4 separate regions of the Homo sapiens genome follow, and all the other regions are linked to region 3. Evidence: fine-mapped expression QTL. A gene starts in region 3. Each other region holds a variant in brackets. All regions are shown on one strand. Distances are from middle to middle. Region 1 has its middle 30 kb from the start of TRAK1. Region 2 overlaps ULK4 (unc-51 like kinase 4). Region 3 holds the start of TRAK1 (trafficking kinesin protein 1). Region 4 holds the start of LOC107986077 (a long non-coding RNA gene).

Evidence for each region.
Region 1: its variant is fine-mapped to the expression of TRAK1 in tibial artery (GTEx, PIP above 0.99). The same link has a PIP of 0.9 or more in aorta, atrial appendage, fibroblasts and subcutaneous fat.
Region 2: its variant is fine-mapped to the expression of TRAK1 in whole blood (INTERVAL, PIP above 0.99).
Region 4: its variant is fine-mapped to the expression of TRAK1 in whole blood (TOPMed, PIP above 0.99).

Annotation. Positions count from the first base shown.
Region 1 is chr3:42,057,602-42,065,259 of GRCh38, forward strand. It overlaps a transcript of TRAK1 not described here. Among named protein-coding and RNA genes, the nearest start is that of TRAK1, 30 kb to the right of the region's middle. RefSeq lists an enhancer at 1-31 and a silencer at 4,182-4,401. The variant T/G (reference allele first, on the strand shown) is at 3,952.
Region 2 is chr3:41,782,249-41,789,906 of GRCh38, forward strand. ULK4 (unc-51 like kinase 4) reads right to left here. Exons shown (of 37, transcript NM_017886.4): 21 at 7,413-7,595. Among named protein-coding and RNA genes, the nearest start is that of ULK4, 180 kb to the right of the region's middle. The variant CA/C (reference allele first, on the strand shown) is at 4,350.
Region 3 is chr3:42,086,045-42,093,512 of GRCh38, forward strand. TRAK1 (trafficking kinesin protein 1) reads left to right here and starts at 5,313. Exons shown (of 16, transcript NM_001042646.3): 1 at 5,313-5,516. The coding sequence starts at 5,426.
Region 4 is chr3:42,008,419-42,016,076 of GRCh38, forward strand. LOC107986077 (a long non-coding RNA gene) reads right to left here and starts at 5,151. Exons shown (of 2, transcript XR_001740668.2): 1 at 5,006-5,151; 2 at 3,600-4,544. It also overlaps a transcript of TRAK1 not described here. RefSeq lists enhancers at 4,834-4,903, 5,884-6,023, 6,417-6,918 and silencers at 5,084-5,203, 5,294-5,363, 5,404-5,563, 5,624-5,693. The variant T/C (reference allele first, on the strand shown) is at 3,807.

The DNA of each region.
Region 1 (7,658 bases), 28 kb before region 3:
CTGGGGAGGTTTTGTTATGTTTGCTGGTGATGCTGTATCTGCTGCTCTCATCTTGTGATCTGAGGAGAACCTGCTGGAAGGCGAGCACTGACCTGCTGTGTGTGGCCAAGCAGAAAGGGAGCAGACGAACTTAGATTCTGGGGTTGGCTCTGTCTCATTTGCATCTTGGGCAGGCCACATGTCTCTCCTCCATCAAGTGTCCTGTAACCTGGAGAACTCACCCTGGTTCACCTGACACGTGGCCCACACCATGTTAATCAGTTTGTGCTTTTATTCTTAAGTATTTGAAGGAACCAGAAAATACAACCAACTGAAAGGCGTTTTCATTTTAAATGCCTGTAAACCTGAACATGTCATTCAGTGAGCTTCCTTGTAAAGCTGAACTCAAATATCATTTCCTCCTTTACTGCTACCCAGGTTTGCCCTTCGCCCCTTGGTTGGGTTATTTTTGCCACCTTTAAGCTCTTCTGGTTTGGCTGCTGCTTCTCTTACTGCTCTGCCACAGTGGGCATTTCATTGGGAAGTGAGACTTGTGGCCGGCTTCTGGGTAAAATACTCCTTGGAACCTCCTCATCTTTAAAATATAGATAATACTCATGTACCTTGGCAGTTGTGGAGATTGACGAAGACAAGGTTTGTTTGTAAGTATGCTTTTGCCTTTAAATTTCATTTTATCATGTTCATCTTTATTATGATAACTGAGGACTGGAGGGAACCTTTATTTTTAAATTTAATTTAATTTATTTATTTTTTGAGACAGAGTCTCACTCTTGTTGCCCAGGCTGGAGTGCAGTGGTGTGATCTCAGCTCACTGCAACCTCTGCCTCCCGGGTTCAAGCAATTCTCCTGCCTCAGCCTCCCCAGTAGCTGGGATTACAGGCGCCCCCGCCACAACGCCCAGCTTATTTTTTAATGTATTTTTGGTAGAGACGAGGTTTCACCATGTTGGCTGGTCTGGTCTTGAACACCTGACCTTGGACGATCTGCCTGCCTCGGCCTCTCAAAGTGCTGGGATTACAGGCATGAGCCACCATGCCTGGCCTGGAGGGAACCTTTAAAGTCAACCTGTCCTACCTCCTGGCTGATGCAGGGATCTCCCTTTAATGTCCATTGTGGGCCTTGCCCATTGTTTGGTGGCCCATTTGAATTGTTGCGCTGAGCTCCCACCCCCACACACAACAGATCGTAAGATACGCCATTGCTTTATGTACCTCTAAGAAAGCAAAAAATGCTACAAAGTAAGCATAGTAAAGGACGATTGGCTATAAGACAAAATTCAATTTTAGAGATATTGAAATGTGAAAAAATGTGTATCTTAAGAGATTTACTCTTTACCATCTGCTCTGTGCTGCAATTTTTTTAAAGATAAAGTGCTAATTTACTGAATTTAAAATAAATCCAGGTGTGTATGCATGCGTGTATATATTTGTATGTATATGTATACACACAAATATACATACGTATGATATAAGTAGGCTTTGGACTTCAGGGAACTTTTTTTTTTTCCTTTTGAGACAGGGTCTTGTTCTGTTGCCCAGGCTGGAGTGCAGTGGTGCGATCATGGCTTGCCGTAGCCTCAACCTCCCAGGCTCAAGTGAATCTCCCCCTCAGCTTCCTGAGTAGCTGGGACTATAGGCATGCACCACTATGTCTGGCTAATTTTAAAAAATTTTTATTAGAGACGAGGCCTCTTTGTGTTGCCCAGGCTGGGACTTCAGGGCCCTGTCAAGTGTGCTTCTGTGTGTATACAGATTTTGAGATTCCCATCCCTGCTCTCCACTCCAGGATAGGACCTGAGTTAACCATATTTTAGAAAGATAATGACTTGTCTTCATCAGTTATCTTTTTGATAGTCTTTATGAATTCTAATAAAATTTTCAAAACAGTGGCTAAAAGAGAACTGTGGCCTGTTTCTCCCTGTGCCTATCAGCAGGCCTCGGGGATTTCCTTTCTTCCTCGTGGACACTTCTGTGCATTTTCCTACAAGAATATACGTGACAGGTCATGTATAGTTTTCCTTCATATTTGTGTTCTATTAAAAAAATCATCCAACTCAGAAAGCTTTTTATTTTCCAGAAAAAAATTTAAAAGTGACTTATTTCAGAGTATTTTTATTCTTCTACAGAGAGACAGCTAGCTGTGATGGAGGCTCTTCTAGGCAGGATATAGGGTAACTTAGATTCTTGTTCTGGCTTCACCGTTTGCTTGTGGTACTTCAGTTTCTTCCTCTGTGCAGTGGGCATAATAACGCCTGCTCCTTTGACTTCACAGATCATTGAGGAATGAGTGAGATTATATAAAGTAATATACTTAGTGTGGACAATGATACAATAAAGCATGGAGGACAGTGTTACAGGTACATAGCAATTCTGAAAGTGCTTGTTTGATATTAATCACTTCTTTCTTTCCCCCTGCATAAGAAATGTCTTTTCTTTTTAAAAAACATTCTGTTTTTTTCCCAATGATTCCAGAGAACCATGTCAATAAGACTCACAGGGGAAAGCCCATAGAAGGTTTTCAAGAAATCCTGTTAGCAGTGAACAAAACACACAAAAGCTCCATCCACATGGAGCTTACATTCTATTTGGGAGAGAGGGGAAATAAACAAATGAGTATATTGTAGTGTATCAGAAGGAATAGCTTCTAAGAAGAAAAATAAAGGAAGGGGATGCCGAGGGGTTGAGATGTCAGTTAAGATATGAAAAAAGACAGAGATGGCTACAGCACCACGGTGGGGGGTGGGGGGTGGTGGTGGGTGAGGGCGGGTGGTAAAGGGAGATTCCAGGTAGAGGGAATAGCAGATACCAAGACCTCTGGGTTCTGAGGAGCAGGGAGGAGAGACGGGGCAGCTTTGAAACTGTGGGACAGGAGAGTAATGTAACGGTAGAGGAGTGCCTCTTTTTCCAGGCGTGGTCCCTTAGCAGTCTCACTGGTTTATAGTCTCAGTCTGTCATTGGGAACAAGCCTTAATGTGAATGTTGTCATATTAATATCACACCTGTTTGTCAGGTCATTTTTGGCTGCTTTTTTTTTTTTTTTTTTTGAGACGGAGTTTTGCTCTTGTTGTCCAGGCTGGAGTGCAGTGGTGCGATCTCTACGCACTGCAACCTCCGCCTTCCTGGTTCAAGTCATTCTCCTGCCTCAGCCTCCTGAGTAACTGGGATTGCATGTGCCCGCCACCACTCCTGGCTGATTTTTTTTATATTTTTAGTAGAAACGGAGTTTCGCCATGTTGGCCAGGCTGGTCTCGAACTCCTGACCTCAGTTGATCTGCTCACCTTGGCCGCCTAAAATGCTGGGATTACAGGCATGAGCCACCGCGCCCGGCCTTTTTTGTTGTTGTTGTTTGTTTGTTTTGCAGTTTTTTGGGGATCTCATCAGGTTCATTTAGGGCTAAATAAACTGACCCTCCAAGGGACTTAATGACTTATGCTGAAGGACCCTGTGAAAACCTAAATGGTATGCTTCAGGCCTGGAAGCTGACTTAAAAGTGCATTTTAAAAAGTTCTTTGTTATGGTATAATTTTAGATTTATAGAAAAGTTACAAAAAGTGTGCAGAGTTCCCATACACCCTTGACCCAGCTTCCTCTAATGTTAACATCTTACGTAACCATTGACCTTAAGTTTTCAAGTGATGGGTGTGTGTCTACATCTGTGCATGCGTGCATGCACACACCCACCCACACACGCACCCCCCCATGCACACCTCCCCCACGCACACCCCCCCATGCACACCCCACCCCCCCACGCACACCCACACACACACACACAGTGCCAGGGAGGCAGCCCTGTTGTCTGTCAGCCTTTTCATAGCTCATCATATTTACACCTCCTGGATACAGAGTGGACCCTGGCCATGGCAAAAGCAGGCAAGGAGCTACTTTGAAGCTGAAGTTCCAAAGCAGGAGATACGGGGAAAACAATCAGCTGCTACAGAGCTCTGAATATCA[T/G]GTGAACCCAGTGCCACTTGAACTTTATTTAGTAGAAGATTGGCCTGAGACACTTAATATAGAAATCCCAGCCATCATGTGAGAATTCCATTCCGTGCAAGTACAAATACAAGAGAATTTGGGAATGTTCACTTTGGCTTGTGTTATGCTAAGTCATCTCACTTCTTTCCCATCTAATTTATGAATCAGAACACCAACAATATATACCAGTTTATTAACTAATGAATCAGGAGCAACAAGCCCATCCATCTACCCATCTGCATGGATTTGAGCTTTATTCAGTAGTACTTTGCCTTGGAAATGGTCCAGGTTATTTTGGAAACGGATATTCAATTCAAATGATGACAGCCATTGGCACTCACTCTGGGGCTCAGGAGGGAAACCACGCCCTTCTAGGCTATTGCTGACGCCATCCCTCCAGAATGCAGCTGTCTCGGGTGGAGGCTCTGGGACAGCTGCTTCTGGCTAAGGCTGCCCATTTGGGAGAAGGGGACATTGAAATTGCAAGAGGAGTCATGGCTGAGAGAGATCCTGCTCATATGTGTGGCAGGAATCCTACAGCAGACAAGATTTTGACAATGGACAAGTCACTCACCTTCTAACATGTCCACTTTCCTGTGGATGAAGTGGAATTTTCCAAAAGCAGGAGTACAGTGCTGCCTGTTACTCTTGTGAAACTCTCAATCTCTTGGTGAACTACTGGTATTATAAAGGAGTGCCGTATTAGCGGAGGTGCAAACAAAATGCTTCAGTGCTTTTGATTCCTTTGGCTAAGGATAGGTCTTAATTTTGAATATTTTTTTTCCTACTAGGGCCAATTTCAAAAAAAATCAAGTTTGCATTCACATGTTTAATAATTCCAGTTATACTTTTAGCATTAAAAAATATGCTTGTCTTGGAGACTATTTTTTAACATTTCAGAATCTACAAAACCAGCTTAAATACAGCATGACTATACTGCTACCCCTCTGAAAAACTTTGTATTTGAGTCCTGGCACCTCTGAGGCTTCTTCATGTTGGTGGTTTTTATTTTCCTTTTCACTGACCATGCATGCTACTCTGTGTGAAATAGGGTTTGTGAAATAGGTTGTGTCAGCGCTATCTGTATGCCTTAAAACAAAGTATTATGCTGTTGAGAAAAAGCAAAACAAGGATAGGTCTTTAACAAAGACTATTTAGGCTGCTGCTGCCTAATATAATTCTCATCAGTGAAGTCTTCACTTTGTTGGAAAACAGTGCCTGACACTCCCTTGTGTCCTGCCTGGTGGGACTTCCCTACAGCCCCTTGAGCTGTTTTCCAGGCTCTGCACTGCAGTGAAGGCGTGTTTGTCTTATGAGGGGATGTGCACTGCACTTTCACCTGTATTACCTCACTCCCCAGAGCCACCTTAGGAGATGGATGACATTATCCCTGTTTTTGAGATATGGAGGACGTGCTTCAGAAATTTTAAGAAACTCAAACAAGGTCACACTGGTAGTGAGTAGTAAAGTCAGAATTCCAGGCCTGGTTTTCCAGTACCAAATCCAGTGCTTATTCTCACAGACCATGGGTCAAATCCATCCCACCGCCTGCTGTTATAAATAAAGTTTTATTGGAATACAGCCACACCCATTCATTTCCATATTTTCTGACTGCCTTCCAGCTACAACTGCGGAATTGCAACGGAGACTGTATTGCCCTCAAGGCCTGAAATAGTTATTATTTTCCGCTTCGCGGGAAAAGTTTGCCAAGCCCTGCCCTAAGCCATTGCTGAAGGAGCATCCGGGTTTTGTCTGTCAGTACATTCCCCACTGCCCCTGCCCAACCAGGAATGCCTTTGTGATGCAGTTCTTGCTCTTTTGTAAAGGTGGGGCTGGGTGTGGTGGCTTGTGCCTGTAATCCCAGCACTTTGGGAGGCTGAGGCGGGCAAATCAGTTGAGATCAGGAGTTTGAGACCAGCCTAGACAACATGGCAAAACCCTGTCTCTACAAAAATTACAAAAACTAGCCAGGCCTGGTGGGACACGCCTGTAGCCCCGTCTCCTTGGGAGGCTGAGGTGGGATGATTGCTTGAGCCTGGGAGACAGAGGTTGCAGTGAGCTGAGATTGTGCCACTGCATTCCAGCCTTGGTGACAGAGTGAGACTCTGTCTCCAAAAAAAAAAAAAAAAGTGGTGGGAGCCACACAGTGAAAAAAGCATATGTGCCGGGGCAGCCCAGCTGTGCCTTATTGTCTGCTCTCTGGCCCTGTGGTGGGCTGAAAGTTCTTACCATACTCCCATCCAGATGTAGAGTCTGTAACCTTTCCCCTTGAATCTGCGTTGGCCCGGTGATGTATTTTGACCAATAGTTTGCGGTAGAAGTGACACTGTGTAACTTTTAAAATTGAGTCTAAAGAGATCTGTAATTTCTGTCTCATACTTTGAACACCCCTTCTTGGGATCCAGCCAGCATGTGAGAAGCCCTGGTGGCCATGTGGAAATTATATCCACGTGAGAGAGAGGCCCAGTCATCCCTTTCAGAGCACTAGAGATGGGAGGGAACCCATTTTACATGCCCAGCCCTTATTACTATCTGACCTGAGGGAGATCACAAATGCCTTCTGTATTGGGTGGTAATGATACATCACAAAAATGCGAATGCTCGCAGCCAGGCGGGCGCTGTGGCTCAAGCCTGTAATCCCAGCACATTTCAAGCCTAGGTGGGTGGATCCCTTGAGCCCAGGGGTTTGAGACCAGCCTGGGCAACGTAGCAAGACCCTGTCTCTACCAAAAATACAAAAATTAGCCAGTCTTATAACCCGGTCTCAAATGAATAAATAAATAGAGGGATACAAATTAAAAAAAAAAACCTTTAAAAAGAATTCTCTTACAGTCTGATGTCAATGTTGGAAGATTAAGAAATAAAATAAATTTTTGAACTTGCTGTCTGAGTTACCCAAATGTAATTTCTAAGAACTCTAAAATATTATCACCTAGAATCTAGGAAGCTACCATGTGATCCTAGACTAATAGCATAGAATGAATGTTGCTTCATTATGAACTTATTATGGAAATACAAATACATAATAAATACTTTAAGCAGACTATAGACTGTTTCCTAAAATACTGAAGTTAAAATATTTGTGCTAGACTTCCTGATATGAAAAGCTTTTCTCATAATGATTTGTGAATTAATTTTACCATAGAATAGTAAGGGTATATTTTTAATGGGTTAAGTAGCTATACTTAAAAAATACATGCCAGGCATGGTGGCTCACACCTGTAATCCCAGCACTTTGGGAGGCCGAGGCGGGCAGATCACGAGGTCAGGAGATCAAGACCATCCTGGCTGACACGGTGAAACCCTGTCTCTACTAAAAATAACAAAAAATTAGCCAGGCATGGTAGCAGGTGCCTATAGTCCTAGCTACGCAGGAGGTTCAGGCAGGAGAATGGCGGGAGGCTGAGGCAGGAGAATGGTGTGAATCCGGGAGGTGGAGCTTACAGTGAGCTGAGGTCGCGCCACTGCACTCCAGCCTGGGTGACAGAGCAAGACTCTGTCTCAAAACAAACAAACAAACAAACAAAAATTAGCTGGGCATGGATGCACACACCTGTAACCCCAGCTACTCTGGAGTCTGAGGCACGAGAACTGTTTGAACCTGGAAGGTGGAGGTTGCAGTGAGCCAAGATTGTGCCACCGCACTCCATCCTGGGCCACAGAGCGAGACTCCCATCTCAAATAAA
Region 2 (7,658 bases), 300 kb before region 3:
CAGCCATATTATCAGAAACAGAAATATTTTCCAGATTCTGTTCTTGTCCTGTTTAGATTTTTTAAGTTCCAAGAGCAGTCACCTTCTACCAGACACTCTGATGTCAGAAGACAAAGCATTATTTTGTAAGTGGCATGATTTCTGCGCTCAAATTTAGAACAGAGACACAGCTTTCAACAACCCAAAAATAACTTACTGTGACTCACCAAATTTAAAAAGACGGAGATGATTAAAAAAAGAAAACCTTAGTTTACTATGTGACCTCTAAGTATCTCGGCTGAAAATTTTAAAGATAGAAAGGTAAATCAAAAGATATAGAGACTGTAATCAGGAACTTAATGAAGCGTTAAATCAAAGTATTTTTGGCATATGTGAAAGAGTTTAATTTTATCACATTTTTTACTGGCACTATAGCTATTTGCAAGTACATATAAAACTACAGTGTTACATATAAACTACCAAAAAAGAACTTTTTAAGAAATGAGACTAATTTAGTAACTTTATTTAAAAGTTTATCTTAAGGGAATAACTAAGGATGTCCATACAAAAGGATTTAGCCATAAGAATGTTCTCCCTGGCAAATCAATGGAAATTATTAAATGTGCAAAAGAGGACTGTAGGAATGAATTGCAATACCTTTAAATGATCGTATATCATAACCTTTTAAAATGATATTGAAGAGTTGCATAAATTGACTTAAACACACATTCGTAACACATCACTGAATAGGAGAAATATGAGCCAGCAAAGAACATAGAGTTGGGTTGGTCCAATTTCTACCAAAAAAAAAAAAAAGACTAATAGCATGACAGCAGAGAAGAGGGAATATGTCAACGCGTACATGTGTATATGTATATATATGCATAGCAAGTACGAATTTGAAAGGATATATATCAAATTTTTTACAGAGATTACCTCAGAGAGGTAAATGTTTAACTTTGGCCTTTGGTGTTCTGATTCCACATATTCTGAATTTTCTTTTTTTATTTAAATAGAGACGGAGTCTTAGCCAGAGCAGTGGCTCACATCTGTAATCCCAGCACTTTGGGAGGCTGGGGAGGGCCGACTGCTTGAGGCCAGGAGTTCGAGACCAGTCTGGTCAACATGGCAAAACTCTGTCTCTATTAAAAATACAAAAATTAGCTAGGTGCAGTGGCTCATGCCTATAACCCCAGCTACTTGGGAGGCTGAGACATAAGAATTGCTTGAACCAGGAGGCGAAGGTTGCAGTGAGCCGAGATCATGCCACTACGCTCCAGCCTAGGCAACAGACCAAGACTCTGTCTCAAAAAAAAAAAAAAGAGAGGGAGAGATGGGGTCTTATCATGTTGTCCAGGCAGGCCTTGAACTCTTAGGTTCATGCAATCCTCTAGCCACAGCCTCCCAAGCAACAGGGGCTACAGGTGCATACCACTGTGCCCAGCTTGAATTCTCTATACTACTCATATGAATCCTAAAATTTGTCACTATACAGTCTGATAACAATTAAAGTAAATTAGCATTGACTACTTTAAGTTTTTAGGTATTGTAATTATAGAAAATTGTAATGAGCTCATCCAATATATTTCTCCCCAATAAACAGCAGGAAACATCCATGAACTCTCAGACTTTTCCAGCCTTGAAAATGAAATATTTGCAGGAAACATTAACAGCTTGGAAGTACCAGAAAAATGACTACAAAGTAAACTAGAAAAATAAAAGAGTTTGGAGTACAAGGATTAGTAAATAAACTCATACCTAACCTACAAGATTTTTTCTTCTACTTGATCAGGTCTTCCAGAAGCTTCTTGGTCAGTCATTCAAGCATCTGAATTATAAAAAGGTAATCAATTCCCTACATCTAGCAGTGATTCAAGAATCACATATAAAGTACCATCTGCCAATAGTTCAAAAAGTTTCCTATTGGCCAGGCGTGGTGGCTCACACCTACAATCCCAGCACTTTGGGAGGCCGAGGCAGGTAGATCATCTGAGGTTGGGAGTTTGAGGCCAGGCTGACCAACATGGAGAAACCCCATCTCTACTAAAAACACAAAATTAGCCAGGCGTGGTGACACATGCCTGTAATCCCAGCTACTCGGGAGCCTGAGGCAGGAGAATCGCTTGAACCCAGGAGGCGGAGGTTGCGGTGAGCCGAGATCACTCTATTGCACTCCAGCCTGGAAATCAAGCAAAACTCCGTCTCAAAAAAAAAGTTTCCTATTAAGTGTTTAGGGGGAAAAATGGAAAAAGGTGGTTTTTTACTTTGATTTTTAATCAAAAGTCCCCTCTCATTGTGGTTGTGATTGTTCACTTTTAACATCACAGTGTATGGAACTAACAGTTGTTTTGGATAAAGGAATCTTCTTCTATTAAGGACATCTATGGGCAAGCAAATCATTTTAAAGATGATGACACAAAATAAATCAAGCACTCATGATGCAAATGGCTACTCATCCAAATAGCTGCTGAATAATAACCATCTAAGGACACTGACACCCAAGTAGCTAATGCAGATGACAATGTGAACTGAACAAGTTCCTTCAATACATAAACATCCACTCAAGAAAATGTCTATGATTCAGAAGAGAATAGACTCTACCACCTTGTTAGTTTAAGATGAAAACCTGGCTACAGTTACAAATTTCAAATGGAGAATCAGAGATTAATTACAAACTACAAATAACTATGAAAACATGAAGTATACTGATAATTAAATAATGTTAAACTCTAGGTTTTATTATAAGAAAAATACAGCATGTGGCTTAAACGACTGCTGGATAAATTACAAATAAATGGTACCCACATAATCTACCTTTCCAAAGAACAATCAAGCAACATTAAGGCAGCACCTTACAAATGTGTATAACACTTGAGTAATCTATTAGAGGTGAACACAAAGATGTATGTAACAGGGTGTTCATCATATCATGATGAGTAGCAACCAAAAAACAGGAGCCAAACAGTTCAATAGTGGAGGAAGAGTTAAATTATTGGTGCATCACAAAATAAATCATATAACAAGTTTCTTTTAATATCCCTGAGGAACATTTAATGACATAGTAAAATACTCATGAAAACAGCAAGAAAAATCAACACAATTTTATTTTAACTTGGTAAATGTGTGCATAAAATGCATAGACGCAGACAGAAAACTAGAAAGAGATAAACCAACATGTTAACAAAAATTATGTCTGGGTAGTGAGATTCCAGCTAATTTTGTTTTCTTCTTTAGAGTCTTCTAAGTTTTCTGTAGCAAACAGTAATTTCTTTTATTTAAAAGGAAGGGAATGGAACTCTTTTGGAGACTGGGTTTCCATTGTAAAAGACCATAATATATGAGCGTCAATCCCGCCAAAAAACAACACGTAGAATTCCTTCTCCCTGTTCAACAGGAAGCAATTTTGTATTTGCTCCTGGGTCTCTTCCTCTTCCACTCATTCTAACCTATCAACAATAAGGCTGGTAAATCTGCACCTCAAACACACATGTATAGACAGGTATAGACGACACTCACTTTTCTTTAAGTAACAATAAGACAATGATCATTGCACTAAAACCCCTTAGGAAGGCCAATATCATGACCCTACCTGAGCTGGGTCTTCTTCCAACTGCCCAGGTTCTTCCATGTCCCTTCCTCCCTGCTGGCTGTGCTCCAACTCTGATGACCTTCTTTCTCTTCCCACATCTCCCTAAGATCTCTCACACTTCAGGAAGGCTGAACCACAAAGTTCTTCCCCTAGATCTTCACATTCCAAGCTCTTTCTTATCATCCAAGGCCAGAATGCACCTTCTCAGAGAGGCCTTCCCTGACTGTTCTCCAACCTAACCTAGGCTAATAATGTGTGGCTCCACTCCACCTGCACACTGCCCCTAACAGTCACTCTATCACATACCCTGTTCTATGTTCTTCAGGACACTAAAACTATCCCAAATTACTGCGTTTTGTTTATTATCAGCCCCTCCTGTTAGGGCATAAGCACTTATATCTAGCACTTATACACTCCAAGAACTCGACAAAATTACTCAACACACTGTCTCATCTGTGAAAGATTCAGAGTTGAAAATCATTTGGCCCAAAGTAAACATTCAGGGCCAGGAATGGTGGCTCACACCTGTAATCCCAGCACCTTGGGAGGCTGCGACGGGGGATCACCTGAATCCAGGAGTTCAAGACCAGCCTGGGCAACATAGCAAGACCCCATCTCTACAAAAAAATACAAAAATTAGCCAGACATGGCGGTGCACGCCAGTAGTCCCAGCTACTCAGGAGGCTGAGGTGGTCACCTGAGCCCAGAAGGCCAAGGCTACAATGAGCCAAGATCACACCACTGCACTCCAGTCTGGGCAACCAGAGTGAGATCCTGTCTC[CA/C]AAAAAAAAAAAAAAAAAAGCAAATGTTCAATAAATTGTAAATTTTTTAATTGTTAATCTTTTTATTAAAATAGAATCTTGAACTCTAAATAGAAATTCATTGTACATTATTGAGGTGTCACAGATACATTTAAAAAACTAGAAGACAAGAGAGAGAAGATGCACTTCTCTCTATTCCTACTACTAAGTACAGCCAAAAACCCTGGACAATATATATAAAACAAATATAAGATGACAGATACATGGAAAGAAGGCAGAAGACCAGCTAGGGGCCTTGAAACCTGAGGATCAACACAGCAATGCATTCACTGAGTTGTCTTTTTGCCTCTTATATCCCAGATTGGGTGCTGAAAAATCCAAGGGTCTAGAAGCACCAACAGGTATACATACACAAATACACAAGAAAAAACAGCTCTCTCAAACCAAAGGACCAAGAGAGGGGCAGCCTGGCAAGACAGAAAATTTTTAGAAAATAGCTACTCTACTTCAGCCAAGCACCATGGAAAAACCACACCCCAACCCCACCAGCAAAGAGCAAGTAGGGAGCCTAGACTTCCAACCTCATGTGACCATGGCAAGGTGCCCCAGCATTATCCCCTGCCAGAGTGGAGTCACAAAAGACCAAGCAGAGAGCTGGGGCTTTCATCCCAACCCAACGACAGAAAGTCCTCCACCATGCTGTACAATGTTTCCCCAGTGATGAGGCATCCATTCCACTCCACCAGCATCAGTGGAGGCAATGATGAGGATCCCTTCCCCTCAGCAGCCGGGGTAGCATCAGAGGAGTCCTGGTGGAAAGCCTGACCTCGCACTCTCACCCAGCAGTAATGAGGAGCTCTTCTACCTCCTGAGGTGGCAAAAGCAGTCCACTGGGGATCTGTGCTTCCATCCCAACCCAGCAACATCAATGCAGCACCCTTCTTCCCCCTGCCAATTCAGTGTCAGAGGGGACTCTAAAATAGAAGATTCAAATAACATCCACCACCACCCAAAATGTTTTATGTGTATAGACTTTCAGTTTTGCAGGATAAAAAGGTTCTGGAGATCTGTCTCACAACAATGTGAACATATTTAACACTACTGAACTGTACACTTCAAAATGGTTAAAATTATAAGTTCTATGTTATGTGTTATCTACCACAATAAAAACTTTTTTAATGTACCAATACTAATCAAAAGTAAAAGACTGTTTATCACGCCATACAATTGCTCATTTCCTTAAGACATGTGGAATAGTAGTTATATATGATAAATAATTAAAATTATATTAACATAACAACCTATTTTACTGCTTTTGTGAAATACTATATTTGAAACTTAATCAATCCATGCCTGTGCTGAAGGTAAAACACACACACACACAAATTCTTCTAAAACTCTCAGCCTCTCTAACCACGGATTACCTGGTAAAATTATTCAAGTATTACTTTTTCTAATATAACAATAAGAACATTTAATGAGTGAAAATTTAATAGCAAAAACTAGACACATAGATTTGTTAGAAAAAAATACTGTCTCTGAGGCACAAATTTCTTAGCAGAATCTAAATCAGAATAATTAAAGACAAGAAGTGGTTTACCTCTATTTGGACTTCCAAAGATTAAGTTTACTATGCAAATCTGAGAGTTATTCATAATAGTTACTGACATTTTAAGTTTCATTATAAAAACCAAAATTTAATGTGTTTCATTTAAAGCAGAAGAAGCATGGTAAACAGTGTATTTAAGTGGTTCCATTCCACACTTCTAAGCAGTGTTACCTTCATCATGTTTTGCAAAACTCTGAATTGAAAGGTACACCTCTCTACCTCTTATAGAAAAAAAGACCTGTAATCCCAGCACTTTGGGAGGCCAAGGAGGGCGGATCACAAGTTCAGGAGATCGAGACCATCCTGGCTAACACGGTGAAACCCCGTCTCTACTAAAAATACAAAAACAAAAAATTAGCCAGGCGTGGTGGCGGGTACCTATAGTCCCAGCTACTCAGGAGGCTGAGGCAAGAGAACAGCGTGAACCCAGGAGGCGGAGCTTGCAGTGAGCTGAGATCACACCACTGCACTCCAGCCTGGGCGACAGAGCGAGCCTCCATCTCAAAAAAAAAAGAAAAAAAGAAAAAGAAAATGACTGGTTGAAATAATGCTGCATACTACTTTCCCCTCATGAGAATTCACAATCACAATACACATTAGCATATTAAAAACTGGGAAAAATTGTACAACTGAAAATATTTCTAAGTTTGAATCATTGCTTTCCAAATTTATATATAGCCAGGCCTACTTTATTTTTTACCTGTTAACACATCATCAAACACTAATATTCTCAAGCAAAGCTTCTCAAAGCATAAAGTTCAAACAAATCACCTAGAGATCTCACTAAAATGTAGATTCTGATTCAGAAGGTCTGCATGGGGCCTAAAAGTCTGCATTTCCAACAAGCTTCTAGGTGATGTCAATGCTGCTGGTCCAGGGATCACTCTTTAACAAGGGACTAGAGAAGACACTTTGAGAAAGGCTACTAGAGAGCCCTGTTTATCACTATACAGTTCTGTGATACGAATTTAGTACTTACAAACTCTACTGTATATATAATAAAGGCATATAAAGGACTAGAAGAGGATAGGTTAAAAACAGAATGGGGGCTCTATAATTTCAACTGGCAGAGTATTACAAGGAAAGGAATAAAAATAGGTCAGAGCAAGCAGAAAAATATAAAGGGACTCCTCCCCCTAAAAAAGGCAAAGGCCATGGGAGAAAGAGATGGAAGCTGGAGTTGGTGAGGCATAAGAAATGCCAGCATATAGGAAGGACTGAGACATTTTCAGTTTAACATTACTGAAATGGGACAAGTAGGCAGAAGCCATTTAAAGAATTTCTATTTTAATCACTAAAAGGCTCTTGGAACATGTTCAGATGAACATTCTGTGGTACAAAGGTTTGGCAAAGTTCAAAAAGGCCTCTTGGGATAAAAAATGAATTCTACAAACATGACATTACTTGTGGAACCACTAAAATGCAGAAGAAAACAATTTTTAATGTAGAGTAACAGGTAAAATCTAAGTCAAACCTTTTCTTGGATTAGTCTTTGAAGATGAATCCCACAGGACAACATGGCAGCGAATAAGGTCAACATGTACTGCTGAACTTTGCAGATGGCAGAGGCCAGGGAGTTTATTACTGAGTTCAGTCCCACCTTTTCAATAACATTCTGGAAGGCAGTAGGAGAATGGCGAGTGATTCTACACAAGGCCTACAAAGACAAGAGAACAGACCTGTCAGGCAACTCCAAGTGCATCAATCATTCCCCTGAAAG
Region 3 (7,468 bases):
TTGTAGGTTTCCTTTTTCATTAAGCTCCTGTTTGACGTTTTGTGTGTACACATGTGATGTGTGTGCAGGTGCGCTGGGAGTTGAGGCAGCGGCACTCCTGAAATGTGTGGGAAATCGCCTGCATGTAGGTGTGCTGTTGCCGGCGCAGAGCGGAGTGTTCAGCAGCCTATGTCACATGCCATCTTTTCTCAGAAGTTATCTTTCATCCTAGTCAGATTTTAAATGAGGGTGAGTCTGTAGTTTTCATCAGATTCTTCTTTTTCTTTCTTTTTTTTTTTTTGAGATGAGTCTCACTCTGTTGCCCAGACTGGAGCCCAGTGGCATGATCTCAGCTCACTGCAACCTCTGCCTCCCCGGTTCAAGCAATTCTCCTGCCTCAACCTCCTGAGTAACTGGGATTACAGGTGCCCGCTACCATACCTGACTAATTTTTTTTTTGTTTGTGTATTTTTAGTGGAGATGGGGTTTCACCATATTGGCCAGGCTGGTCTTGAACTCCTGACCTCAAATGAGCCGCCCACCTCGGCCTCTCAAGGTGCTGGGATTACAGGAGTGAGTCACCGTGTCCAGCCATTTTCATCAGGTTCTTAAAGGAGTCCCCTAATTTCTCACTGTAGCTTAAGGTAGGGGCATACCTTAAAGTTCTTAGAGAGTTGAGAAGTTATTGTGGTTGAAAGAGTTTAAGAGAAACATATCTTATGTAATTCCATATACAAATAAAAATGTTACCTCTCTTTGTGTGTATAAATCCTGTAGGAATACAGGTTTTAGCTGTGCTCCAGTGTGTTTCTTTGCTTAGAGCTGCTTCAAGGCAGGTTTCAGTAAGCAAATGAAGCCATGTGCTCCACATTTTGGTCAATATTGATTAGTTGAATGGAACTTTGCTGCAGTTATTTTATTGAAACTAAGCAATGTGATTGGAGATGCCTTGACTTGAGAGAAACGCGTTTCAGAATTCGCAGTCTGAACGCACGTCATCCCGGGGCCCTCATTTTCTAAAGATTGTCCAGGTTTATCGATAGACTCTAACTGTGCCCCTCTCTTTCAATTGTCCCATAGATTCCCTATAAGGAGCCCCTGCTGGTGCACCAGAACTACCGGGGGCCATCTGCCCAACTGCCCCAGACTCTGGCAGTGGGGCCCCCGATGGCAGTGGGCACCTCCCCGTGAAACCTGCCAAGCTGGACGCCACAGCTCTGCACGACGACACTTTGGCCAACTCCGTGCCCCCTTCGGAGGCATGCAACCATGCAGTCCTAGCCTGCAGCCTGGGCATCCCTGAGGAACACTACATAAGCGAGGCTGTGGAAGATGCTCCCAGCTACAGAGGGTACCGGGATGCCTGCACCATTACTGGTATGGGGGCCCTTTCCCTGCCAGGGAGGAAGGGAGGGAGGTTTCAGTCACTGAGGACTAGGGAAGGAATGCAGCCACATGGGAGGGTCTTGGGGAGGTATGTGGAGAGGAACCACCAAAGTGCAAAAGACTCTGAGCTTTCGGATTGTGAGACCTCCAATCCAGAACCTGTTCTGCCAGTGAACCATTTTGTAACTTGTGTCAGTTGTTGACCTACTATCCTGACTGAGAGGTAGACAGCATTTCACTAAATTGTCATGAAGGTTAAAGATGGTAACATCCAAACCTGAGCAGCAAGCATGGCCCATCACAGGCACTCAGTGTATTGAACCCTTCCTTCTCTCTTTGCACTCAGCTTCTTCAGATATAAGACAGGTGTAGTGGGAATAACATGCACTGTCATTGTGGGATGCAAAAACAGAAAACTACATGGAGTGCCCTTTGTACACCATCAGGATTTGCACAGACATGGATTTTTACAGATACCTGTGTCAGTCATAACTCTCAGTGTCCCAGGTGGTAATCACCTAACATCTGTGCGGGCACTTAGTAGTAGAGCTATTGCTTTTTTATTTTCCCCAAGGAAGCATTGAGACAAGTGCTTGAAGCTAGCACAAGAGAGGGCTCTCAATGGAAATGGTGTAGGATGGTGTGCATAACAGCAGCAAGTGGCAAAATTATAGCTCAATCCAGTTGCATTCATATAGAAGTTTGCTTAATTTCTCATTTTTGTCTGCAGTGTTTGCTTTTGTTTGTCTGTTTGAAGTAATGCCTGATGACAGCTTAATATATGCAAGTTGGCTTCCAGTAGCTTCTCTTGGTTCTGTGTTACCAGTTAAGCCTTGAGGACCTCCTGTGTGTCAGGGGTTTCCTGGATACAGAAAGGCACAGAGAAAGCCGGGGGTCCCAGCCTGGTGCCTAGCTGCTGTGCTAGGCCCCCACACACCTCCTCTCCCTTTTTGTTAAGTGGCCCACATGTGTTGTCCTCCGCTTGTGACTGAGTCCCTCTCCCACTTGCCTGCCCCCTGAAGGACACAGTTCCAACATCTCCCTTTTCTCTACTGCATCATTCTTTTCCCCTTGCACTTGGGTCTTTCTTATTAGTGCAGAAACATGCTATGATCTCCCTCTTCGGAAATAGAATCCTTCTCAGTCCCGTGTTTCCCGCAGGCCAGTGTCTCTGCTCTTCTGTTTGCTTACTCTAGTTTTTCTTTTGTTCTCTCTGGAGTCCACTGCAGGCAGGCTCATGCCCCACCACACTGACAGCCTGGTTCAGTCCAGGGGTCTGTCCTCTGCCTTCACCTTACTTCACTTTTCAGTGGTAGTTCACACTGTTGCCAAGTCCTGTGTCCTGGAAGTACAGTCTTTACTTGGCTTCTGGGTCCCCACACTCTCCCTGTTCTTCTGCCTCAGTGGCTGCGTTTCTTCTTCTCCCAAGCCTGGGAACGTTGAAGGGCCCGGGGCCCAGCCTTTCCGCCTCTTTGCTCTTATGTGTGCACCTGTGCAGCACTTGATCTCACCCAGCACACAGGTTTTAAAATCGCCTTCTGTACTGGCCACTCGGTGGTTTCTGTACTCAGCCTGGCCCTTCCTCCTTAAGGCCAGATGTCTCAGACTGACTCCACATGAGTTTCCACTTAGATGTCTAACAGGCATGTCAAACTCAAATGACCAAAAATGAGCTCCTGGTTTCCACCTGCACCTGCTTTTCTTAGGGTTTTCCCCATCCTTGTAAATGGTGCTTTCATTATTCTAGTTGCTCAGGCCAAGAACCTTGGAGGCATTTGTGATTCTGCCTTTCTGCGATTCATACCCCAGTTTGTCAAGAATTCTGTTGGCTGTATCTTCAGAGTATGTTCAGAATCTACCCAGCATTTACTGTGTCCCAGCCACCCCCATCTCACACCTGGATGACCGCACTGGCCTTCCAGTGGGGCCTCTTACTGCTACCCTTGCCTCCCTAAAATTCTTTCTCCGCTCAACCATGAGAGTTGGCTTTTAATACAATCAGATGGTTTAACTCTCCTCCAAACTTCCAGTGAGCTCCCCTTCTATAGAGACCTGTAAGGAAGGGGCTGAATGACAGGAATCCCTCTTTGCCCCGCTGACCTGCCTCCTCTGTGCCCTCCGTGCTCCAGGTACACTGGCCGCCTCACTTAACCTTGAACTCACCAGGCACATCCAGCCTCAGGGTCTTTGGATTGCCTTAACTCCAGATATCCTTATGACCCCCTCTTCCTTCTCCAAGTGACATTTTATTTGATGCTTTTTGTGACCCCCCCCCAATACAGAGTGATCTGCCTCACCTTTCCCCATCTCCCTTTCCTGTTTAATTTTTTCCCCCAAACTTAACCATCTGCTGAACTACTGTATTTGTGTTTTGTCTCCCAAACTTGCAGTAGACTAAAGTCGCGGAGGGCAAACTCTGTGTCTACTTTGCACACTCCTGAATCCAGTGACTAACGTAGTGCCTGCCTGTGGCCAGCGCTCAGTGAACATTTGTTGGGTGTATCAATTGTGTCAATTTGTGCAGTGAGTACTATTATCCTCTTTGTGTAAGTGAAGAGTCTAAATCTCGAAAGGTTCAGCACCTTGGTGAAACTCCTGAGTGGCAGGAGTTGCATCCAGGTCTGTAGGACCCCAGGGCAAGGGTTCTTTGCTGCCTAAGAATTTAGTCTAGTTGGGGAGACAGATGAGTGAGTAGAAATTGGCTGTACACCGAGGTTAGCACAATGATAAGCACAGCACAGTAGGGCACCAAGGAGGGTGCCAGGCTGAACCTTGGAGGGGAAAGGACAGGAGAAGACCACGAGGGCTTTGTGGAGGAGGCGATGACCCAACCGCATCTACATTTGTCCAAACACATGAATTGATCCTTGGGATTCTAGTGGCATCTGTACCAGTGAAATCCAGGAAGCATCCAGCCTGTTAAAGTGCTTTCACTTTCTTTGAATGTGACAGTGGAGGGTAAAGAAATGGCAGAATGTACCGCTGAAACTTCACAGCTGGGCGTGGTGGCTCACGCCTATGATCCCAGCACTTTGGGAGGCCGAGGCGGGCAGATCACCTGAGGTCAGGAGTTCAAGACCAGCCTGGCCAACATGGTGAAACCCCGTCTCTACTAAAAATATAAAAACTAGCCAGGCATGGTGACGGACGCCTGTAATCTCAGCTACTTGGGAGGCTGAGGCAGAATTGCTTGAACCTAGGAGATGGAGGTTGCAGTGAGCTGACACAGTGCTACTGTACTCTAGCCTTGGCGACAGAGTGAGACTCTCTCAAAAAAACAAAACGAAACAGCAACAACAAAAAACACAACAAAGAAGTGGCAGAATGTAGTGCTGAAACTTCAAACCCTATAGGATGTGGTGACTTGGGGGTTCTTTGTTGGGACCAGAGGAAAGCTGAGAAACAGCTCGGTGCTGTTGTGTTTAGCACTGGCTTGGTAAACAGGAGAGTAAACACAGACACTCTTATGCGTTTAAGGGATGGGCTGTCAGGTGATGGAGAACATGCTCGGATTAAAGTTTTATTAGGCAGTCATTGAAAGGAAGACATTAAATGGAAAAAAGTTCTCCGAGAGACCTAGACTATCCCCAAGAATGCATCTGTGGCCTCCCAGGGCTTTGCCAAGTGCAGTCTCAGGACACTGCTTGGCATTCAGCCCTTGATAAATTCACTCCTCCCCCAGTTCCCAGCAAGCCCTGAGATGAACAGCAGACTTTTTGTTCCACTTTAATTTTTAGGCAAAACCGAATGCCCATCACAAAGCCCCGTTCTCCTTGCTACTCCCCTTCCCCCAACCTAGAGGTATCACATTTTTGGGTGCGTCATTTTCTGTTTGGGGTGGCTTAACAAGATGAGCTGATAGGGTTCCCAGGCTGCCTGGAGTTACATAACCCATTGTGCTTCCAGGACAGCTCACAATCTTAGGATTTGCCCTAACAAGCAAACTCAGAAAACTGCTGAGGAAGGCACGGGAGGGTGGCTGTGCGAGGTACTGCCGGGGCTGAGCTCTCATGGAGGCTCTCTCTGTTCTCTGAAGTGCCTTTGGAGTTTATGTCTGCACATGGCATTGGTTTTTCAATTCGGGCAGCCCGTCAGGGCTCAGCCTCTGCCAGGACTCTGCCACGGCAAGCTCATTCGGACAAACGCCTGTGGTAAGTTTGTTTGCCAGGTCTGTCTGCTGTCTGTTTTCTTTGTGGTGTGGTCGGAAAGGAGAAAAGACCACAGGAGAAGCTGTCTCTCTCTTGCTCCGTGCTGCTTGGGAGGTTGTTCATGGTCATGTGGTAGAGAAATTGCCATGTTGAATGATAGGCAGAGCAAAGGGACTTCAGAGACACAACTACTGCCCTCACCACCCCCCCATCTCCCGTTCCCAGGTCCCCTTGTCCCCTTGCCCAGGCTCAGTAGGTGCAAGTGACACTTGCAGGGCATGAGCACAGGGCTGAGTTGAGCCCAGACCCCCTGCACTGCCACTCCCTTTCCCTTCACAGTTCTCTGCAGTGGGTGGACAGGGTTTCTAAGGCCTCCTCCGCCTCTCCAGCTCTGATTTCTCTAATCCTATGTCTTGTCTTTATCCTGATTTCTTAGATGCTAACCTGGTATCTTGGGTCAGCAAGGAGTTTTTCAGAAGGTGAAGGACAGAGTTAGACTGTCTCCCTCCCTCTCTCCCGTTTCCCTCTCTTCCACCCTCCCTTTCTTTTTTGTCCTTTACTAAATGCTTGGGCCTGGGACTCGGATCCACACCCCAGTGATGGAGGGCTTGCTAATCAGATCTGCTGTGGCTTGTGTCTCTTGCTGTGGGGCTGACACCTCTCACTTCCTCTAAGCTGGTCAGAGTCCAGTGGTTGATGACCCATCTGGTTTCTGTCCTGTCTACACGCTGCTTCCTGAGAGCTGTCTGGGCCAGAAAACAGTTAATTCCTGAGAGAAGTGAGCTCCTGTTCCATTCCAGTCAGTTTTAGGCTTTAAAACATGTAAATCTTATTGAATAAGCCTAAAGACACTTCAAACATGCATCTTACTGAGGCAATCGTACTTATTTTTGTGTGTTGAAGCAGCGTGCACCCAGGGCCAGGTTTTTACTGGGGTTTATGTTAATTCCTGGGGTCAGAGAGAGGACTGGTCCTGCCCTCAGAGCACAGAGGTGGGCCAGGGTGTAAAGGAGAAGCTGTAAACCGAGTGAGAATTGCCTAGGAAAAATCTGCTAACAGGAGTAGCCCTGCCTGGGAGGACTCTTCATCAAAGGGCCATGGCTTAGAATTTGTTCCTTTTATTTTGTTGTGTTGTGTTGTGTTGTGTTGTGTTGTGTTATGTTATGTTATGTTATGTTATGTTATGTTATGTTATGTTATGTTATGTTATGTTATTTCGTGACTCACTGTATTGCCCAGGCTGGTTTTGAATTCCTGGGCTCAAGTGATCCCCCTGCCTCGGCCTCCCAAAGTGCTGGGATTACAGGCGTGAGCCACCATGCCTGACCCAGGATCTTTTCCTTTTCTATCACTGATTTAAGCCATAAAACTTGATGTCTTATCCTCTGAAAACATGCTCAAATAAAACATTATGGAATTCTTACACATCTTATTAATTAAATTTAAGGCCTTGTCAATTTCTCTCTAGTATAATTTTTATTTGTGTTTTCTATTGAAAATTTATAATCTAAATGGGTCTTTTATTTGGCTATATTAATGAAACAGAAAAGAATGGACAGTGAAATATATATCCCTTTTACAACAGAGTGAGAAAATGTAAATTACAATGTAGGGAATAACACATATTTTCTAAATGTGTAATTTAGAAGTTTTTTTTTTTCTCCTTCTCTTAGTGGAATCTCCTTTATTTCACAGTTGATTTGTTTTTGCAGATGGAATGCAGAAAGGGGCCCTGTTATGCTAATTTCTAGAGAGAGCATTTGATCTTTGCAAAACCACAGAAACATTCACCTCTGCCTTTTAAATATGCTATAAATGATTTGGGGGCCACCAGCTAATCTTCCTACCCTTCAGTTCCCTTATGACTAGGTGAGTAGGTAGAATATTTATCACAAGGTTTTTGACATAAATTGTGAAATTTATTTAAAATGTCATTTGTAAGTTTTTTTCCATGT
Region 4 (7,658 bases), 78 kb before region 3:
AGCCACCATGCCTGGCCTTCACAAACTAATTAAATATGTATATGTGTATCACATTATCTGACTCCTCTCCTGGACAGAAAGGTCCATTAGGGCTAGGAATATACCCGTTTTTTTTTTCTTTTTTGACACTGGGTATCCTTCTGTCACCCAGGCTGGAATGCAGTGGCACAATCATGGCTCACTGCAGCCTAGACCTCCTGGGATCAAGCAGTCCTCCCACCTCAGGCTCCAAAGTAGCTGGGACCACAGGCACATGTCACTATCCCTGACTAGTTTTTTGATTTTTTTGTAGAGACAGGGCCTCCCTATTTTGCCCAGGCTGAGGAATGCATCTGTTTTACCCACTACTCTATCACCCTAGCCTAGTCCAACAGACACAGGCTGGGCATGGCGGTGCACTCCTGTAATCCCAGCGCTTTGGGAATCTCAGGTGGGAGAATTGCTTGAGCTCAGGAGTTGGAGACCAGCCTGAGCAACACAGCAAGACCTCGTCTCTAAAAAAAATAAAAACAAAAACCAAAAAAAATAGACACACACGCAAAACTGTCAATATATGACTTATGGATCTACTTTTTACAGTATTTCATTCATTCTTTTTTTTTTTTTTGAGATGGAGTCTCGCTCTGTCGCCCAGGCTGGAGTGCAGTGGTGCGATCTTGACTCATTGCAACCTCCGTCTCCCTGGTTCAAGAGCTTTTCCTGCCTTGGCCTCCCGAGTAGCTGGAACTACAGGCATGTGCCACCACTCCCAGCTAATTTGTTTTGTATTTTTAGTAGAGACGGGGTTTCACCATGTTAACCAGGTCGGTCTGGAACTCCGGACCTTAGGTGATCTGCCCGACTCGGACTCCCACAGTGCTAGGATTACAGGTGTGAGCCACCTCGTCCCGCCCTTTTTTTTTTTTCTTTTTGTTTTTCTTTTTTTTCTGAGACAGAGTCTCGTTCTGTCGCCCAGGCTGGAGTGCAACTGCATGATCTCTGCTCACTGCAACCTCTGCCTCCTGGGTTCAAATGATTCTCCTGCCTCAGCCTCCCAAGTAGCTGGGATTACAGACATGCACCACCATGCCAGCTAATTTTGTATTTTTAGTAGAAACGGGGTTTCACCCTGTTGGCCAGGCTGGTCTTCAACAGAAGTTGAAGTGATCCTCCTCAAGTGATCTGCCTGCCTTGGCCTCCCAAAATGCTGGGATTACAGGCATGAGCCACCGCACCCAGACATTCTTTCTGTATCTATTGACGGGGCATCTATGAGTCAGGCACTGTTGTTGGTGCTGGGACTGCAGCAATGAATAAAGCTGGTGTCAGGCATCTTTTATATATGTCCCATGTTGTATCTTAGTTAGCTTTTTTTGCTCAGCATCTACTTTTTTTTTTTTTTTTGAGACAAGAGTTTTGCTCTGTTGCTCAGGCTGCAGTGCCATCGTTCAGTTATAGTTCACTGCAGTCTTGAGTTCAGGGGTTCATGCAATCCTCCTGCTTCAGCCTCTTGAGTAACTGGAACTACAGGCATATACCTTCATACTTCCATAGCCAATTTTTAAATTTTTCTTTTGTAGAGATGGGGTCTTGCTATGTTGCTTAGGCTGGCCTTGAACTCTGAGGCTCAAGTGATCCACCCACCTTGGCCTCCCAAAATGCTGAGATTACAGGTGTGAGCCACCACTCCTGAACTCAGCATCAAGTTGGCCAATGGGAGATAGGAACTGGTGGCTAAATATTTCCTCCTCTGTCTTACATTCTGCGCAGTTCCTCAGGGGGCCTCAGTGGGACTAAGCTCCAGTTGTTTACAGAAATTTTATATCCTTCAATAGGCTTTCTTTCTTTCCTGTTTCATTCTTTCTGGTCCCAATTTCTTTTTCTACCCATATCCTACGGGATCATTTTCCAGAAGAAAGTATCTGCCCATGAGTCCTTCTCCAATGTTGCTTTTGGGGGGAACCCCAGCTAATATAGCTAGCCTTTTAATTGCTTTTGTTGGGTCACTTTCAACATTTCCACCTTGGGTCCCTGGATGCATTCTGGGTTCCTAATGGGTAGGGATCAGATATTCTATTTTGTATTTTCCCACAGTTACTAACGAGGGCCTGGCAAATGCAAGTAAACATAGATTAATTTCGATTTGATTCAACAAAAGGAAAGAATACAGTGGCTATCTGTGGCTCAAGGGAAGCCAGTTGCCTCTGTTGCAGCTACTTCTGCCTCATGCTGGATGAAGGGAGGACTTACCAGGGCAATTACTGTTTTCCTTTCTTGTATCCATTCTGCTTCCCTCCCAGGTTCCTGTTCCACTGGCTTCCAGCAGCAGCAGGTCAGCAGCTGCTCCAAGTAGTTCATCAGCTCAGTCAGGCCCAGAACTGGGGCTGTCACTGGGGCCCCGCCTGCCATCTGCTTCCTCCAAGCTGAGAGTAGGAGAGGAAAACTGGTCCCTACTCCTCAGGGGCAGAATCCACATGCCTGTCATCTGGCACTACAGAACAAATCAGGGACTCCAAAGAATGAATGACTTCAAAATTTTCTACCAGCCTTAACTGAATCTCATAGATATAGGGAGTGACAGACAGCTGGTAAAGGTGTAAAGAAAGTAGAACATATTTGGCAGACAAGCAGTAGTTAACGGGTCTACCGCTAATTTGATGCTCCTGTGGACACACACTACTTTTCTGCCCACAGTTTCCAGAAAATGAGTAGGTTGGACTAGATGATCTCAAAGAACCCCCAGCTCTAGGATTGTTAAATTACAGAACTGGAAGGAATCTGATCGGTCAGTTATACTTCAAATAGTCTAATTTTTTTTTTTTCTTGAAAGCCTTCACTGTTGGTAACAGCACCATGTCTATTCTAGATCCACTATGAGAGCTCCAGCATATCTGCTCTGGCATGCTCCCTGATGGGCATGCCCATTTACATACAGTTTTTTTGTAATTAAAAATGATTTTTTTTGTAATTAAAAATTGCATTGAGATAATGGTAGATTCACATTCATTTCTAAGAAATAATATATTTGGGCCAGGTGCGGTGGCTCATGCCTGTAATCCCAGCACTTTGGGAGGCTGGGGCAGGTGGATCACCTGAGGTCAGGAGCTCGAGACCAGCCTGACCAACATGGTGAAACCCCATCCCTACTAAAAATGCAAAAATTAGCCAGGCATGGTGGTGCACGCCTGTAATCCCAGCTACTCAGGAGGCTGAGGCAGGAGAATTCCCTGAACCTGGGAGGTGGAGGTTGCAGTGAACTGAGATTGTGCCATTGCACTCCAGGCTGGGCAACAAGAGCAAAACTCCGTCTTGGGAAAAAAAAAATACACACACACACACACATATATATATTTGGCCTAGTTTCCCCCAATGACAACATTTGCAAAACCTTAATATGATATCATAACTAGGATATTGACATTGATACAATTTACCTATCTTATTCAGATTTTCCCAGTTTTACTTGTACTCATTTGTGTGTATATTAAGTTCTAGATAATTTTATCACCTGTACTACCATACTCAAGATGTTTAACAGTTCCAAATTCACAAGGATCCCTTGTGTTGCCCTTTTATATCATACCTGCTTTCTTTCCACCTTACTTCATTCCCCAACTTGATGGATTTTTCCAAATCTTTTTATTTGGAAATAAGTTCAAACTTACAGAAATGTTCAAGTACACTCTATATGCTGATTCACTGATAATATGCACCTTACCTTTATTGCCCACTTGGCTTTATCATTTTTTCCTATCAAGATTTTTTTTCCCCTGAATCATTTGAAGGTAAGCTGCATACATTATGACCTTTACCCTTTCAAGATACTT[T/C]AGTGTGTATTTCCCAAGAATTAGATATTCTTGTACATAATTACAGTGGAAGTTATCAACATCAGTACATTTAACATTGATCCAATACTTTAATCTCTTACATGGATTCTGATTTTGTCAGCTGGAATGTCCGTGATGTATTTCCCCTCCTCTAGCACAGGATGCAGTCTAGGATCAGGCATGGCATTTAGCTGCCCTGACTCTTTTGCACCCTTTAATCTGGAACATTTCCCAAGCTTTCTTTTGATTTTAATGACCTTGACATTTTTGAATAATACAGACCCTTCCTCTTTTTAATAGATGTTCCTCATTTTGGGTTTGTCCGATGTTTCACTATCATGATTCAGGTTATGCATTGTCCCCAGGAATACTGCATAGCTGATGTGGACATGATATCCATCTGCTCTCATTGGTGATGTAAATTTTGATCACCTGGTTAAGATGCTGTCTGCCTGCCTCTTTGTATAGTTACTATTTCCGCTTTTGCTACTAACAGGTCTAAACCATCTATGGGGAGACACATCAACCCAGACAAATATCTGCCAGCCAGTAACAGCCCCCTAGAGTAAGCATTCATGGATGATTCTTGCCTGAGCCAATCTTCACTATACACTTGATGATCTCTTCAAGTCAAGTCTATGCCAGTATGAGAAATCAGGTTTTGCAGGGTTTAGTTTCCTTACACCTTTGGTTCTGGTCTGAGTCTTCTTCAAGTCCTCCCAATGTCCTCTATGACCCCTGGGTTGAAAAGAAGTAGACTCAGTAGCCTCAACTGGAAATGAGATCATGTGGGTTGTTCCCTGTTAAACCGTCCACAAGTGATTTGCATAATAGAGTGGCCTGTGAGCTCTTACTTCCTGGATCGGTTCCTGATCCCCTCTCTGCTGTCCGCCAGCCCCCTGCCTGTCACCCTTTGGTGGCATCTTAGTCCAACAGCCAGTTCCATCCCCTCCAGCCTTCCCCCCGTCCCCGGCTCCATCCTCCCTCCATTTAAGCCTAAGGGCGGCTTTGCTAGGAGACAGCCCGCCCTGCAGGAACAGAACGCCTGGACTTCCACTGTGTTCACGACAATCAGCGCCCCGGGCCGCGGGGGTCCCATCCTTCTCTTAGACTGACTCTGGAAGGACCCCGAGAAGTGCTAGAAGTAAATAAGCGCTCGGGGAGGGATGTGATCAGCTTTTCCGGATCCAGGTCTTTACCGGATACTTCTCTGTGCCCCACGGCGTGGGTAAAAGTGCAGGGGCAGCCGCGGGCGAGGAAGGCGGGGCGCGGCTCCAGGCGACTAGGACGTGGCCGGCGGGCATCCTGGAGGGCGGCCCGCAGGTGGCGGCGCGGGGCGGCGGGCGGGGCTGGGAAGGGGGAGGGCTCGGCGCGCGTCGGGCGGTGACGGCAGCGCGGAGGGGAGGTGCAAGCCGCCCGCTCGCGGGGGAGCCATGGCGAGAGGCCGCGCGGCGGCGCCCGCAACAGTGCCCGCGTCCGCAGCAGCGCCCCCGCCCGCCGCCCCGGGGCCCACCCGGCCGCCGCCCCCGCGCGCCCCGAGCCCTTGACGCCCGCGCGCCTCAAGCGAGGCGTCCCCCAGAGTGGGGCCGCGCGCGGGAGAGCCGGAGCGCAGCCTTAGCGTCCCCGAGAGTCTCGAACGCCCCGACGACCCCCGCGTCTCGGAACCCCGGACTCCGAGCCCAGGAGCGCCAGAGCGGCAGGCGGGCAGCAGGAGGCGGCGGCGCCAGAGCGGAGCCCCCGCGAGTGCCCCCGTGCCGCCCGGCCGGCTGCAGCGGAGGGAACCGAAGCCGCCGGGCGGCCGGGGCCGGGCCGAGAACGACGCGGAGGAAGCCCCCACCGAGGCCCCCCGGCACCGCGCCTGCTGCCGGGTTGCGCTCCGTGCACCTCTTGCGGGTAAGCCAGGGGTCCGCTCACCCGCGCCGCCTGCGCCTCGGGCCCAGGGGCTGGGGAAGGACACGGGTGTTCTGGGAGTGTCCGCGTGAGATAGTGGCGGCGTGAGAGGCCGGGCGCCGGGACCCTGCGGGGACAGCCCTCCTAATGCACCGGCCGCACCTGCAGGAGGCCCTCGGAGCCCGGAAAAGTGCCCCTAGGGCATCGTGTCGGCCACGCCGCGTGGCCTGGATTCCGCGCTCCGGCACTCCGAGGTGACAGTGAGGCGACCTTCAAAGAGCCTGGAGCTGAGCGCGGGCAGCACCCCGATTCCCACTCACCCGCAAAACTTGATGAAAATGACATCATCTGAGCGTGTCAGAGAGCAGAGAGCCTTTAGAGCCCTCCTTTGCATCCTTGAGAGTTAACAAGTTTACTTTGTCACTTTCTTGACCTGATTTTTAAAGTTCTTTTCTAGTCTCCAAGGTCAAGCTCTTGCAGGTAAAAACAAATGTAATGAACTGTATCGTTTCTTCTTTTGTAAAGTTGTGTTTCAGGAAAGATGTTAAAAGTCGGCCTGCTCTTGAGGCTGGTGCTGGGTGCCCCTTCCGCTTTAAGCTTGCCTGTTTTAGAACCCGTGGCTGCACTTGTTCAGACACTGAAATTAGCGTCCGCTTTGAGAGCCTTCAGAGTATTCGTCGTTGGACCGCTGATTTTTTTTTTTTTCTGATATGCTTCACTGGAACTTTATTTGCTTCAAAAGTGTAAACGTTGTCAATACTGTCTGTGAGTGTGTATTCGGGACTGGTAACCTTTTCTGGAGGGTCTTTTGTTTATCTGGAAGGAGAGTGGAGGTTACCATAGGGAAACGGTCTAGTTCCAGGGTCCTTTCCAATTTCCAACTACAAGAGCAGCGAAGAGGAAGGTGCTCAGACTAAGCTCTGATTAGCCCTGGAGCCAGTCTGCACTGGGGAGGGTCTCCCCAGATTGAGTGAAGGGACAACAGGCTGGGAGCTTGACTGGTAGGTTTGGAGAGTTGGACCTGGAGTGACAGATGGCGCCTTCCCCTCTGTCTCTCGGTTTGGAATGGTCATACTCGGTTGCTCTTTGATCTTGGACCTCAGCTTTGTCACAGAGGTTCCCAGCCCAGTGTAGCCTAAGCCAGCTGGAAAGCTGAGCCCGGCTCTGGGGGATGCTGAATCGGTTTAAAGCCCTTGTCTCAGGGCTGCGAGTTTGGCAACAGTTGGGTTTCAGCTTGGCCCCAGCACCAGCCGTTTCCTGTTTGATGCCCCAGGGACCAGTTTCCCATCCCCAGCGCTCGCTTGAGGGTGTCTCCACTCTGGCTGTGTTGCTTCTCCTTCTCTGTGGTCTTGGAGTGGGAAACCTGGACTGAAATTCCAACTCCTCTCTATTGGCTGTGTGACCTTACTTAACCTCTCTGTCCTGCTCTCCCCTCTCTGGGAGACAATGTTTTAAATGGAGGTGTCTGTAAAAGTTTGACTGAATGACATGGGAGCGTTTTCAGGTCTCCTTCCAACATGATTGGGTTTGTAATTTGGTAAGCTTTTTGAGCCCCAACAGGGATAATAAAGCATATAATAGTAATTATTGTTTTATAGGTTTATTATGAGGGTCAAATCAGGTAATATAAAAGAGCTTTGGGCCGGGCATGGTGACTTGTGCGTGTATTCCCAGCATTTTGGGAGGCTGAGGCAGGTGGATCACTTAAGGTCAGGAGTTCGAGACCAGCCTGGCCAACATGGTGAAACCCCGTCTCTACTAAAAATACAAAAATTAGCTGGGCATGATGATGGGCACCTGTAATCCCAGCTACTAAGGAGGGTGAGTCAGGAGAATAGCTTGAATCCGGGAGGCAGAGGTTTCATTGAGCCAAGATCCCGCCACTGCACTTCAGCCAGGGCGACAGAGCAAGACCCCATCTCAAAAACAAAAACAAAAACAAAAAACATAAAAATAAAAGGG